Homo sapiens: one gene and its partners. The protein of the gene in region 3 purifies or fractionates together with the protein of the main gene of each other region. This does not show direct contact. Each region holds a gene or a part of one and is shown on either strand. Other genes may lie near its edges. The genes, in order: SKP1, FBXL18 and FBXL16.

Region 1 (3,746 bases), on a different chromosome or scaffold from region 3:
TCCGTATCCATATACCATGTGTACTCACTGTTTAGCTCCCTACAACCCACTTTTTACATGAGTTTCCACCAAGTACACTGCTGTCTTCCTGAGACCTATCATGAATGTAAAAGGTGTCATGAAGGCACCTCAATAGGTCAGTCAACAAGTAGATGATACATGTCAGGCAAGAAGTATTTCACATGGGACAGCCACTGGGCCACCATCATGCATTGTCATTGTCACTCCACTGAGTTCTATTTTTTGGATTTTGTGTTTAAAGTATAAAGTCATTTTCCAGAACAGCGTCTATTTAAAGTAGGCCACTGGAAGTTGTAACCCCAGACTTGCTTTTGCTTCTGAGAGAGTGCTAGAGGACACTAGCCATTCTCTGGACATCTGTCCCATTTTAAAGAATTCTGTTCTGGCTACTGGCCTAGTTGTTTAAAAAACCTACATTCTAACCAGGGCTTATGCAAGACCAGGTTGCTGCATCTGATTTGGTGTCTCACTTAGAGTACACAGGGTACCTGAACAATGCAGTCTTTGTGTATTGGCGGGGAAGTCTTTGGCAACTCTGTTTAAATCAGATCAGCTTTTTTTTTTTTTAATCTGACTTCATAAAGGAAACTCAGATCCTCCCAAATCACCCTGGTGCATTCCTGCGAGGCCAGAGGGTGACTTGAGATTGCAACCTCAAGTTCAACTGCTAATACCACACCAGTCCCCCTTCACTGCCAGCTGAGAACCAACCCTGTTTCCTGAGACATCATAAGACAAGATACCTTAGCCTCCCTTGAACATTTCCAGACAACTAGCAGACTGGCAACTTGGGTGAAAGACGTTCATCCCTCCCCTGGTACAGCTGCTCCCCATTTTGTTCTCTGTGGATATGGTGAGGGTTCAGCCCAGCAAGCAGACAAAGCCTATGTCTCCCAACGTGAAGGTGTCTACTTTAACAGAACCCCATGGATGGACTCTCTTCTGACATGTAATTATCTTTTGAATGGCTCCTGTGGTCTCCCATTCCTTCTGGCTGTGGACCCCTAACAGCTAGCTCAGAAGCACTGCACCCTAGCTTTGTTCAGTATACATAAGCCTGGCCAGGAAGGCCACAAGTAAAGGGAAGCGGAAGGGTTCTTTATATCCTGTTCCAGAGAGGAAGAAAGGGAATCAGTTCCTGCATCCGTTTCTCAGAAAACAGCACAGAACAGAAGGGGTAAGGGTAACAAGGCCATGTTAAACTACCTCTTAGGCCTATATGTCAAAGTAGAATTTAAGACCCAAATCTAGTTAATTGTATAAAAAGGCTAAGTTGGCTTTTCTTTGAGGTTCTTTGAGAGTCCTTAACTGCGACTCTCAGATCTCTTCAGAGCATTTTTTAAGCTCTTCAGGGCTTTAAGAGTTCACCAAGGGTTTCTGAAACAGCTGCCCACCCAAGCAGACCCTGGTTGTGTCAACTCCCCCAATCCCAACTTATTGTGATAACCTTGTTCCAAATCTCAAATCACCCTATGGGCATCTTTCAAATTCTGACTCCTGAGCTCTTCTCTAATAGTTTGGAGCTACTAACAAACCATTACTGGCAGTGAGCATCTGAAAATACTCAAAACGGCACCGAGTTTGAAAACAGGAAACATAGATGGTGGGGATGTTCACATACACAGTCCCTTAGAATAAAAGCCTAGCTCAGGTCAGGAAGGATTTTCAAGCTCTTAAAGATAGCATGGGATTAGGCATGTTAACTGGAAAGGGAAAACTTATGTCCTGGGGGTGGGAACTATACTATCACAAGCAGTCCTCACAAGTTAGGTCACTATTGGTAAGGGATGTTTCACTTCTGAAGACAAGATAGCAGCTGTGAATTATGCGGGAGATAGTCCAGGCCAATACTTCTTTCATATTCACCAGGGGCTCTGGACCAAGTCTTCCTTTTTCATTCAAGTGTTCTCATTCTTTTATCTGAAGCCTAGTTCTTTCAGGCATGTGCAATGTCAGGAAGCGGGGTGGGGCTTGGGGAGGGAAGAGGAAAAGCCAGGTTCCACTCACCAAAAATAAATAAATAAATAAATAAAAATTTTTACAAAGCCACTCTGGAAACCCTGCTTGAGTACTTGAGGATAGAGTACAGCTTCTCTATTTTCCCACCCCTTTCCGTAAGCTTCCTGGAACAGAAAAATCTGCAAAGCAACTGAAGAAGGCAGTTAGAGGTTGTGAAATGGTACATTCAGGAAAGAAAGGACAAATAAGAATTTTCACCAGATAGGTGGGAGGTATTCAAAGTGAGAGCACTTTAAGGAAATAAGCTGATCCTCAGTGTGCAATAAGAGGCTGCTATATAGCAGGTTGAAAATTTGAAGTTAAGAGATATCAGAAGGTCTGAATATACTTAAATACTTCCAGAAAATTTAAAGTTGACAGATATCAGAAGGTCGCAAGAACTACAGATGTGGAAGCAGACACTGTTATGAGCAACTACATTCCTCCCATAGAATGCTGCTCAATACTGGCACACAGACCAGAGGTAGCCAGCAGTACACAAGACTGCAAGGCAACAAGTACATTATCAATGAATTAGCCATCTATCACTCAAACTATGTCCCGCATTGGAAGTGTGTCAAGCAAGAGCACCTTCGACAACACTTTTCGGCCACCACTAATGATCATCTCCACTGATGCCTCAGCAGAAAGGATAACATTCAGCCAATCCTGCTTAGGTGTCCAAATGGCTCAATCTTGGGCCAAAGGACATGCTCTGAAATATTTCTTACACCATACTTCATCTTGATATGCACAGCCAGTTCTCTTACTCATTCTCTGTGACCACTGGAGGTAGTGATTTTTAACAACAGTAAACAAGAAAAAGTCATCAGGACTCTAACTGTAAAACCCCCAACATTCAAAAGACTGGTTTAGTTGAACAGCCAAAAAATAAATAAATAAAAATTAAAATTAAAAAAATTAGAATTTAGCTCACTCAAAAATTGCCCTGCCTAATGTGGGTCTGATGAATAAATGCTGATAAAATACTACTGAGTGTCAGCAAAGTACTGTGACTAATCCTGCCCTAATTTCTCTTTAGTCTATATTCTCAGGGAAATGTACCAACACCCAACCTTCTGCTGTTAGTTCCTGACTGTGCACTGCTTTTTCCTCACTTTGGCATCTGTCCACCCCCAAACAAATCCAACTTGATTCTTGAAACCAAATTAGTTTCACTTTACAAAACCTTTCGTAGCACCTTTCAGCTCTGTAGCCCCCCATTGGCTCATTAATCTGTTCTGTCCAGAAACTTTTTTTTTTTGAAACGGAGTCTCGCTCTGTCGCCAGGCTGGACTGCAGTCAGTGGCGTGATGTCGGCTCACTGCAACTTCCGCCTCCCGGGTTCAAGCGGTTCTCCTGCCTCAGCCTCCCGAGTTGCTGGGACTACAGGCATGTGCCACCACGCCCAGCTAATTTTTGTATTTTTAGTAGAGATGAGGTTTCACCATGTTGGCCAGGATGGTCTCGATCTCTTGACCTCGTGATCTGCACACCTCAGCCTCTGAAAATGTTGGGATTACAGGCGTGAGCCACCGTGCCCAGCCCAGGAACATTTTTATTAGAGTTATCCACTCCCTCCCAGCAGTATTTATGCCTTCTCTCCTGAACTACACCAAAAGCTCCCAGCTCCCTAGAGGGAAACCATGTCTAATGCTTCCTACCAAGGAGAAGCCAGGAGCTACACTTTAAGGATTCAGCCATTTTGTAAGCTTTCCCTTTGCTTG
Region 2 (3,746 bases), on a different chromosome or scaffold from region 3:
GTACATATTTGCCTGGATGGAAGCTCTGAGTTTTGCAAAGCCAGGCTGCTACCATGGCAACCGTGAAGGCCATGGAGGAAGAGCCTATCTGCACACCCCACACGGGTATCGGAGGTTTCCTGGGAACTCTGACTGCGACAGTCCTTTCACCCTCTCCAGACAGGATTCCCATCCTGCTAAGCCCTCGCCAGGCCCTAGACAGGTGTGCTGGAATGTGTCCCACCTTTCTTCCCTGGGAACAAAGAAGTACCCTCCATCCTCCAAAAGAGAAAGCCACACGGAAACCAAAGGACATGGCCCGTAAGGACCCATGAGGCTCATGAGGGTCAGAGGTTAGACACTTACTTCTACCTTCCCTCCTAATATTTTAATAATTAGCAGAACAAGGCCGGGCATGGTGACCCACACCTGTAATCCCAGCAGTTTGGGAGGCCGAGGCGGGGAAATCACAAGGTCAAGAGATCGAGACCAGCCTGGCCAACATGGTGAAACCCCGTCTCTACTAAAAATACAAAAATTACCGGGGCATGGTGGCAGGCGCTTGTAGTCCCAGCTACTCAGGAGGCTGAGGCAGGAGAATCGCTTGAACCCCGGAGGCAGAGATTGCAGGGAGCCAAGATCACACCACTGCACTCCAGCCTGGGCAACAGAGCAAGACACTGTCTCAAAAGAAAATTAGCAAGACAGGCTGGGCACAGTGGCTCACACCTGTAATCCCAGCATTTTGGGAGGCTGAGGAGGGCAGATCACGAGGTCAGTTCTCGAGACCAGCCTGGCCAACATGGTGAAACCCTGTCTCTACTAAAAATACAAAAATTAGGCCAGACGTGGTGGCTCACGCCTGTAATCCCAGCACTTTGGGAGGCCAAGGCAGGCGGATCACGAAGTCAGTTCTCGAGACTAGCCTGGCCAACATAGTGAAACCCCATCTCTACTAAAAATACAAAAACTAGCCAGGCGTGGTGGCATATGCCTATAGTCCCAGCTACTCGGGAGGCCAAGGCAGAAGAATCACTTGAAACCGGGATGTGGAGGTTGCAGTGAGCTGAGATCGCGCCACTGCACTCCAGCCTGGTGACAGAGCAAGACTCCATCTCAAAAAAAAAAAAAGAAAGAAAAAAATACAAAAATTATCTGGGCCTGGTGGCGGGCACCTGTAATCCCAGCTACTCAGGAGGCTGAGCAGAATTACTTGAACCCAGGAGGCAGAGGTTGCGGTAAGCCGAGATCGCACCATTGCATCCAGCCTGGGCAACAGAGCGAGACTTTGTCTAAAAAAAAAAAAAAAAAAATTAGTGGGACACAGTGGCATGTGCCTGTTGTCCCAGCTACTCAAGAGGCTGAGGTGGGAGGATCGCTTCAGCTCAGGAGGTTGAGGCTGCAGTGAGCTAGGATCTTGCCACTGCACTCCAGCCTGGATGACAGAGAGAGACCTTGTCTCAAAAAAAAAAAAAGATAAATAAATAAAAATCAGATTCCTGGAACCCACCCCAGACTTGTGGGGCCCAATCCCAAAAGACAGACTCCCAAATCAGGGACAACCTTTATCAGAACCAGAGACAAACTTGATCAGAATCAGAGACAATCTTTATCAGAACCAGGGACAGTCCTTATCAAGGAATGAACTGTACCCCTCCCAATTCCCAGTTTGCAGATTTATGAAAGAATGCCATCACAGAGCTCACGTGGTAAGAATGAGAACTTAGGGCAAAACACTATTAAAAACTCCAGCACTGGGCCAGACGCTGTAATGCTGTGCTCACGCCTGTAAAACCAGCACATTCAGAGGCTGAGATGGGTGGATCACCTGAGGTCAGGAGTTTGAGACAGGCCTCGGCAACATGATGAAACCCCATCTCCACTAAAAATACAAAACTTAGCCGGGTGTGGTGGCACACGCCTATAGTCCCAGCTACTCAGGAGGCTGAGGCAGAAGAATCGCTTGAACCCGGGAGGTGAAGGTTGCAGTGAGCCGAGATCGCACCACTGCACTCCAGCCTGGGTGACAGAGTGAGACTCTGTCTCAAAAAAAAAAAAAAAAAATCCAGCATCATATAGATTCCACAGTTACACGACCACACTGAATTTTTCTTAAAACCTCATAGAAATTACAATAATTTTTTTTAAAAAGAGAGGGAGAGACAGCAGGCCAGGAATTAAGTTCCAGCTCTCTCCATCCAGCCACAGCAAATTCCACAACATCATTTTTTCCACATGCTGTGCTCCAAATAAAACAGAAATTTTGGACAGGCGCGGTGGCTCACGCCCGTAATCCCCAGCACTTTGGGAGGCCAAAGCGGGTGGATCACGAGGTCAGGAGTTCGAGACCAGCCTGGCCAATATGGTGAAACCCCATGTCTACTAAAAACACAAAAATTAGCCAGGCGTGGTGGTGGGCTACTGTCCACAGCAACTATCCAGCAACTCGGGGGGCTGAGGCAGAAGAATCGCTTGAACCTGGGAGGTGGAGTTTGCAGTGAGCTCAGATTGTGCCACTGCACTCCAGCCTGGGTGACAGAGTGAGATTCCATCTCAAAAAAAAAAAAAAAAAAGAGAAGTTTCATCTCAGGCCAGACCCCTGATGCAATTGTGGGGCCAGCACCCAACCTGGTGGGGCAGGTATCTGAGGGGTGATGCCCAGACAAGACGAGAAACTGGCCCAGGAAGCAGCTCGAATGGGCCCCCACCCCCACTCTCCATCTCCGGCCAGAGGACCCTAGGAGGCAGCTGCTGGGCGGGCGAGTTGAGTCATTTCCCTGGAACTTAGCTTCCGGAGACAACTTTGTTAAGTTAAGGCACCTTGCACCAAAAAAGGTGGCAAGCTCTGGAGAGGAAACAAAAACCAGGGTGCAGGAAGGGCGCGGTAGCTCATGCGTGTAATTCCAGCACTTTGGGAGGCTGAGGCAGGCAGATCACTTGACGTCAGGAGTTCGAGACTAGCCTGGCCAACATGGTGAAACCCCATCTCGACTAAAAATACAAAAATTAGCTGGGCGTGGTGGCAGGCGCCTGTAATGCCATCTACTCAGGAGGCTGAGGCAAGGAGAATTGCTTGAACCGAGGAGGTGGAGGTTGCAGTGAGCCAAGATCGCACCACTGCACTCCAGCCTGGGCGAAAGAGTAAGACTCTGTCTCAAAAAAAAAAAAAAAAAAAGAAAAGAAAAAAAAACCCAAGTTGCAGCCTGGGCAATGTGGCAAAACCTCGTCTCTACAAAAAAATTAAAAAATTAGTTGAGCCAGGCACGGTGGCTCACGCCTGTAATCCCAGCACTTTGGGAGGCCAAAGCAGGCAGATCACGAGGTCAGGAGTTCGAGACCAGCCTGACCAACACGGTGAAACCCCGTTTCCACTAAAAATACAAAAATTAGCCAGGCATGGTGGCACGTGCCTATAGTCAGTCCCAGCTATTCAAGAGGCAGAAGTGGGAGGATCACCTGAACCCGGGAAGTGGTGGCTTCAGTGAGCCATGATCGCGCCACTGCACTCCAGCCTGGGCAACAGAGTGAGATCCTGTCTCCAAAAAAAAAAAAAAAAAAATCTAGGTAACTGGCTGGAGGTCAAAGGCCAAGTAATGCCTCCCACAGGGCCTGGACTCCTAAGCCCAGAACCTCCCTTCCCTCCACCACCAGGAAAGGGCAGCTGAGGCTTCCAGACAGGTCCCAACCAGGCACCTCATTCCTGGGGTCTCCTGAAATTCCAATTCTGGTGTGAGTGGCAGGCCCTGGAATGTGCTTACCAGGCACAC
Region 3 (3,746 bases):
GTTGCCTTTTTCGACCTCTCTGTCTCTCCTGGGTGTGAGCCATTGTCTGCTATTGGTGCATTTTGTAATCTTTTGCGACATCCTTGTCCTTGCCTGTTACTGTGTATAGAACAGGGTTTATTTCTGCCTCTCTGGAAGGGTGGGCTAGAGTCTGGATATGTTGGAGGGAATATTATGTGTAGTGACTTCAGTGTTGTCTCTCCCTTTAAGGAATGGGAGGTCCTCTGCCTTCCATGTAGTCACTGCTGTTTCCATTCTACCATGTCGGCATCCAGCCTCTACCCCTTTGTTGCAAGAAAGAATAAATCTGATAAGAGGTACAGGAGAATCCCGAGACCTGGGATGCGCAGGGCAGATATGCCCACCTACACCGCTGTCTGGGGACCTAAAAACAACTCAGACACATGTTTTTACAACTTTTTTAATATATATTTTTATAAACAGGTCACGTGATAAAATAGCACAAGAAACACTTACCAAATATAAGGTTATATCTTCCGCATATACAGGAGAATGAGGTCGTTATGTACAATAAGAAAATGATTTTAGGGGTTGGTTGGTTTTGTTTTCCTCTCTCCCCTTAATTTTTCCTCCTACAGTCGTTGGAAATATCACAGCTTCAGTTGCATTAATACTTTGGGCAAATGGACAGCTGCCCCTCCCCACTAGGGGTTGTGGGGAGGAGGGGCTGGAGAAACTGGCTCCTGACCACTCAGCCCTGGAGCTTCCTGGGGCTGGCACTCCAGGGACAGGAAAATCTTTGGGCTGTTGATCTGTTTCTGATTCAACAGCATCTCTCTCTCTCTTTCTCTCTCTCTCTCACTCTCTTTCTCTCTCTCACTCTCTGGCTCTCTGGAAACTGGTTACTCTCTTCCAACCAGATAGGGAGTGTCCCAAGATTGGGTGTGGGCGCGGTATCTCCTGGGGCTCAAGGTTGGGATGGGAAGGGGTCCCAGCCCCCTCCTCAGCAACAGCTGAGATTTGCCAGCATCCCCCAGGACTTCCAAATGTCTCGGGCCGACAGAGCACGGTCAGAGCCCATTTGGGCAGACAGAAGTTTGGGAAGCTGGGGAGGGGTGAAGTGGGGGTGGGGGGGCAGGCTAGAAAGGAGCCCTCCCTCCTCGGGGTGTCTAGGGTGTGCTGGCCACTGGAAGATTGGAGTCGCTGACCCAGTGCTGACCCTGACCCTTGGCTGGGTCCACTCTGCAGACTCCACCTGAGGAGACCCACCCAGGGTGAAGCTCGGTGCCCAGGCCTGAACTGAGCCCGGCCGGGTGCAAGGGCTGAGGTGTGAGGTCGGCCCAGGCCTCTTCCCAGGCCTGAGGGTGGCTACAGCTCGAGGCTTGCAAGGTGCCTGCGCCACCCCTGGGTTGAGGCCGACCGGAGTCAGCTGGGATCACGTTAATGACTCCAAGCGATCGCCAGCCCTTCCGCCCTCTCCCTGCCCAATTCTCTCAGCCTGGCCAGGGACCAAGGCCGGGTTTTGGGGCGGACAGGGGACTGCCCCACACAGCGGCAAGGAGGAGGAGAGGCCGCGTGGGTCAGGCTGGATGGGTGAGGAGGTGCGGGTGGGGCCTGGGCTCTCGGCGGCGGGCCATGGCTTTGGCGGTGGCCTGTTTCCCCTGACACCCCTCGGAGGGCTCCAGGTATGGTGCGGTGGAAGATGCAGGAAGCCCGTGGGGCTCTTCTGGGCCCGTGTCCTGGGGGACCCAGCCCCCTCAATCCCACTGGGCCCTGCCCGGGATGGGGGGGACAGTGGGAAGACAGAGCGGGTGTGGCGGGGAAGGCGGTAAGGGCACAGTCTGGAGAGCTCAAAGCCCCCCCAAGGACCGAGCCCCGCCCCCCAAGCGGGAGGGCGAGCGAGTGATGGCGGCGGCTGTGGCTGTGGCGTGGCGGAGGGCGGCGTGCAGTGCGGGCACGAGGGGCATGCACAAAGTCCCCGAGTGTGCGTGCGTGCGTGGGGCGGGCCCACCCGCCGCCCCCCTGCCCGGGGCGGGGCTGGGAGGGCGGAGGGACCGAAGGTCGGGGAGGGGCTTTCCCTCGGCTCGCCCCGCCTCCCGCGCTGGGCCGGGGGCGCGGGGGCTCCCCCGAGCGCAAGGCGGGAAGAGGGGGCTCGGCGGCGCCCCGCGCCCCCGCCCAGGTCATGGCCGGGTTCCCGCGACCGGGGCGGGGGCCTCGCGCTACTCAATGACGAGGCAGCGGGGCAGGTGCTGCGAGAAATACTTGAAGAGCTCGGGGGTGGCCCCGGGGCAGTTGGTCAGCTCCAGCTCCTCCAGCTCCTGCAGCTGCACCAGGCCCGACAGCCCGGTGGTGGTGAGCAGCGGGCAGCCTGCGGCGGGGTCAGAGGGCGGCTCAGTGCGCGCGGCCCAGGGCTCGGGCGGGGACGGCCGGGCCGCGCCTCCCTCCTCCTCCGCCTCGGACCCGGGACTGTGTGTCCGCGCCGGGTGTGAGTTTGCACAAGGACCGGGCAGGTTGGGCGGGTGGACTAAGTGGGGGTGGGTGGTCACTGCCAGCGTCAGAGCAGAAACGGGGGTCTCACCTGCCAGAGACAGGAGGCGCAAACTCCCCAGGGCCAGGAGGTGCTTCAGCCCGAAGTCTTGCACCTGTCGGGAGTGGAGGAGCGACTTAACGATTTCCGCTCGCACCGAGGCGGAGGGCACCCTGGGGTCCATGGAGGGCTAGGCGGGTTCAAGCCCGGGGTTCCTCCGTCCCCCCCGGAGCCGGGAGGCGGCTGGGAAGTGCTCGTGGGGGCCGCCGGGACCCCTGCGTTCCGCTTAGGTCGGCTGCTGGATAGGGAGGGGCCCCAGACTCTCCCAGGATCTGAGTGGGGCCGGGAGCTCTCCCCGCGCCCCCACCTCCCCGCCGATCCCCCAATCCCGGGGCGTGAGAGCCGGTACCTGGCAGCACCATCGCAGGTAGAGGCTGCGGAGGGACGACATGGTGGACAGATAGCTGAGGCCAGTGTCCGTGATGCGTACACACCTGTGGTTGCACCAGAGGGGACCCCCACCTTCAAATCACCTGGCCCCGGCCATCCCTCGTCTTCCTGGGAGTGCCCCTGGCGTGAATCCCTTCCTGCCCCACCCGGAGCAGCCGCTGGCCCCTCCTCGCTCCCACCCACCGGGAAGGACGGGGGTCCAGCCAACCCGTGCTGCGGTTCTGCGGTTCCCACTCCCCAGGCTCCGAGGGCTCTGCCCGCCGCGCCACAGCCCCAGCCCCGCCGGAAGCCCCCGCCCCCGGCCCCGTGCAGCCCCGCCCCGCCCCGCCCCGTGCAGCCCCGCCCGGCCCAGCCCCGCCCGGCGCGGCCCGGGGGCGCGCACCTGTCGAGCACGAGCTCCTCTAGGCGGTGCAGGTCGCAGGCCACGTACTCCAGCGCCATGTCGGTGATGCGTGGGCACCACGAGAGGTCAAGGCTGCGCAGCTTGCGCAGGTTCTCGGCCACGAGCTCCACGCCGTCGTCGGTGACCTTGGAGCAGCCCGAGAGGCTGAGCGCGGTGAGGTTGGGCAGGCTGTGCACCACGTTGACCACGCCGTGGTTGGTGATCTCCCAGCAGGAGAGCAGGCGCAGCGTGTGCGTGCTGTGGCCCTGGCGCGCCGTGAAGTAGGCCAGCGCCGTGTCCGTCACGTGGTAGGCCTGCAGGCTCAGCTCCGCCAGGTTGGGCAGCAGCTGCGAGATGGCCGCGATGGCGTCGTCGGCCACGTTGATGCAGTCACTCACGCTCAGCGAGGTGATGCGCGCGCTCAGG

Evidence for each region.
Region 1: the proteins of FBXL16 (region 3) and SKP1 purify together in Homo sapiens (affinity purification with western blotting; 5 studies listed by BioGRID and IntAct, with this or other methods). This does not show direct contact.
Region 2: the proteins of FBXL16 (region 3) and FBXL18 purify together in Homo sapiens (affinity purification with mass spectrometry; 2 studies listed by BioGRID and IntAct, with this or other methods). This does not show direct contact.

Annotation. Positions count from the first base shown.
Region 1 is NC_000005.10:134,149,274-134,153,019, forward strand, and holds part of SKP1 (S-phase kinase-associated protein 1), read right to left. Parts: 3' UTR 1-3,746. UniProt on the Homo sapiens protein: Essential component of the SCF (SKP1-CUL1-F-box protein) ubiquitin ligase complex, which mediates the ubiquitination of proteins involved in cell cycle progression, signal transduction and transcription.
Region 2 is NC_000007.14:5,507,168-5,510,913, forward strand, and holds part of FBXL18 (F-box/LRR-repeat protein 18), read right to left. Parts: intron 1-3,746. UniProt on the Homo sapiens protein: Substrate-recognition component of the SCF (SKP1-CUL1-F-box protein)-type E3 ubiquitin ligase complex.
Region 3 is NC_000016.10:692,095-695,840, forward strand, and holds the end of FBXL16 (F-box/LRR-repeat protein 16), read right to left. Parts: coding exon 3,321-3,746; intron 2,983-3,320; coding exon 2,898-2,982; intron 2,604-2,897; coding exon 2,540-2,603; intron 2,330-2,539; coding exon 2,181-2,329; 3' UTR 406-2,180; downstream 1-405. UniProt on the Homo sapiens protein: Substrate-recognition component of the SCF (SKP1-CUL1-F-box protein)-type E3 ubiquitin ligase complex.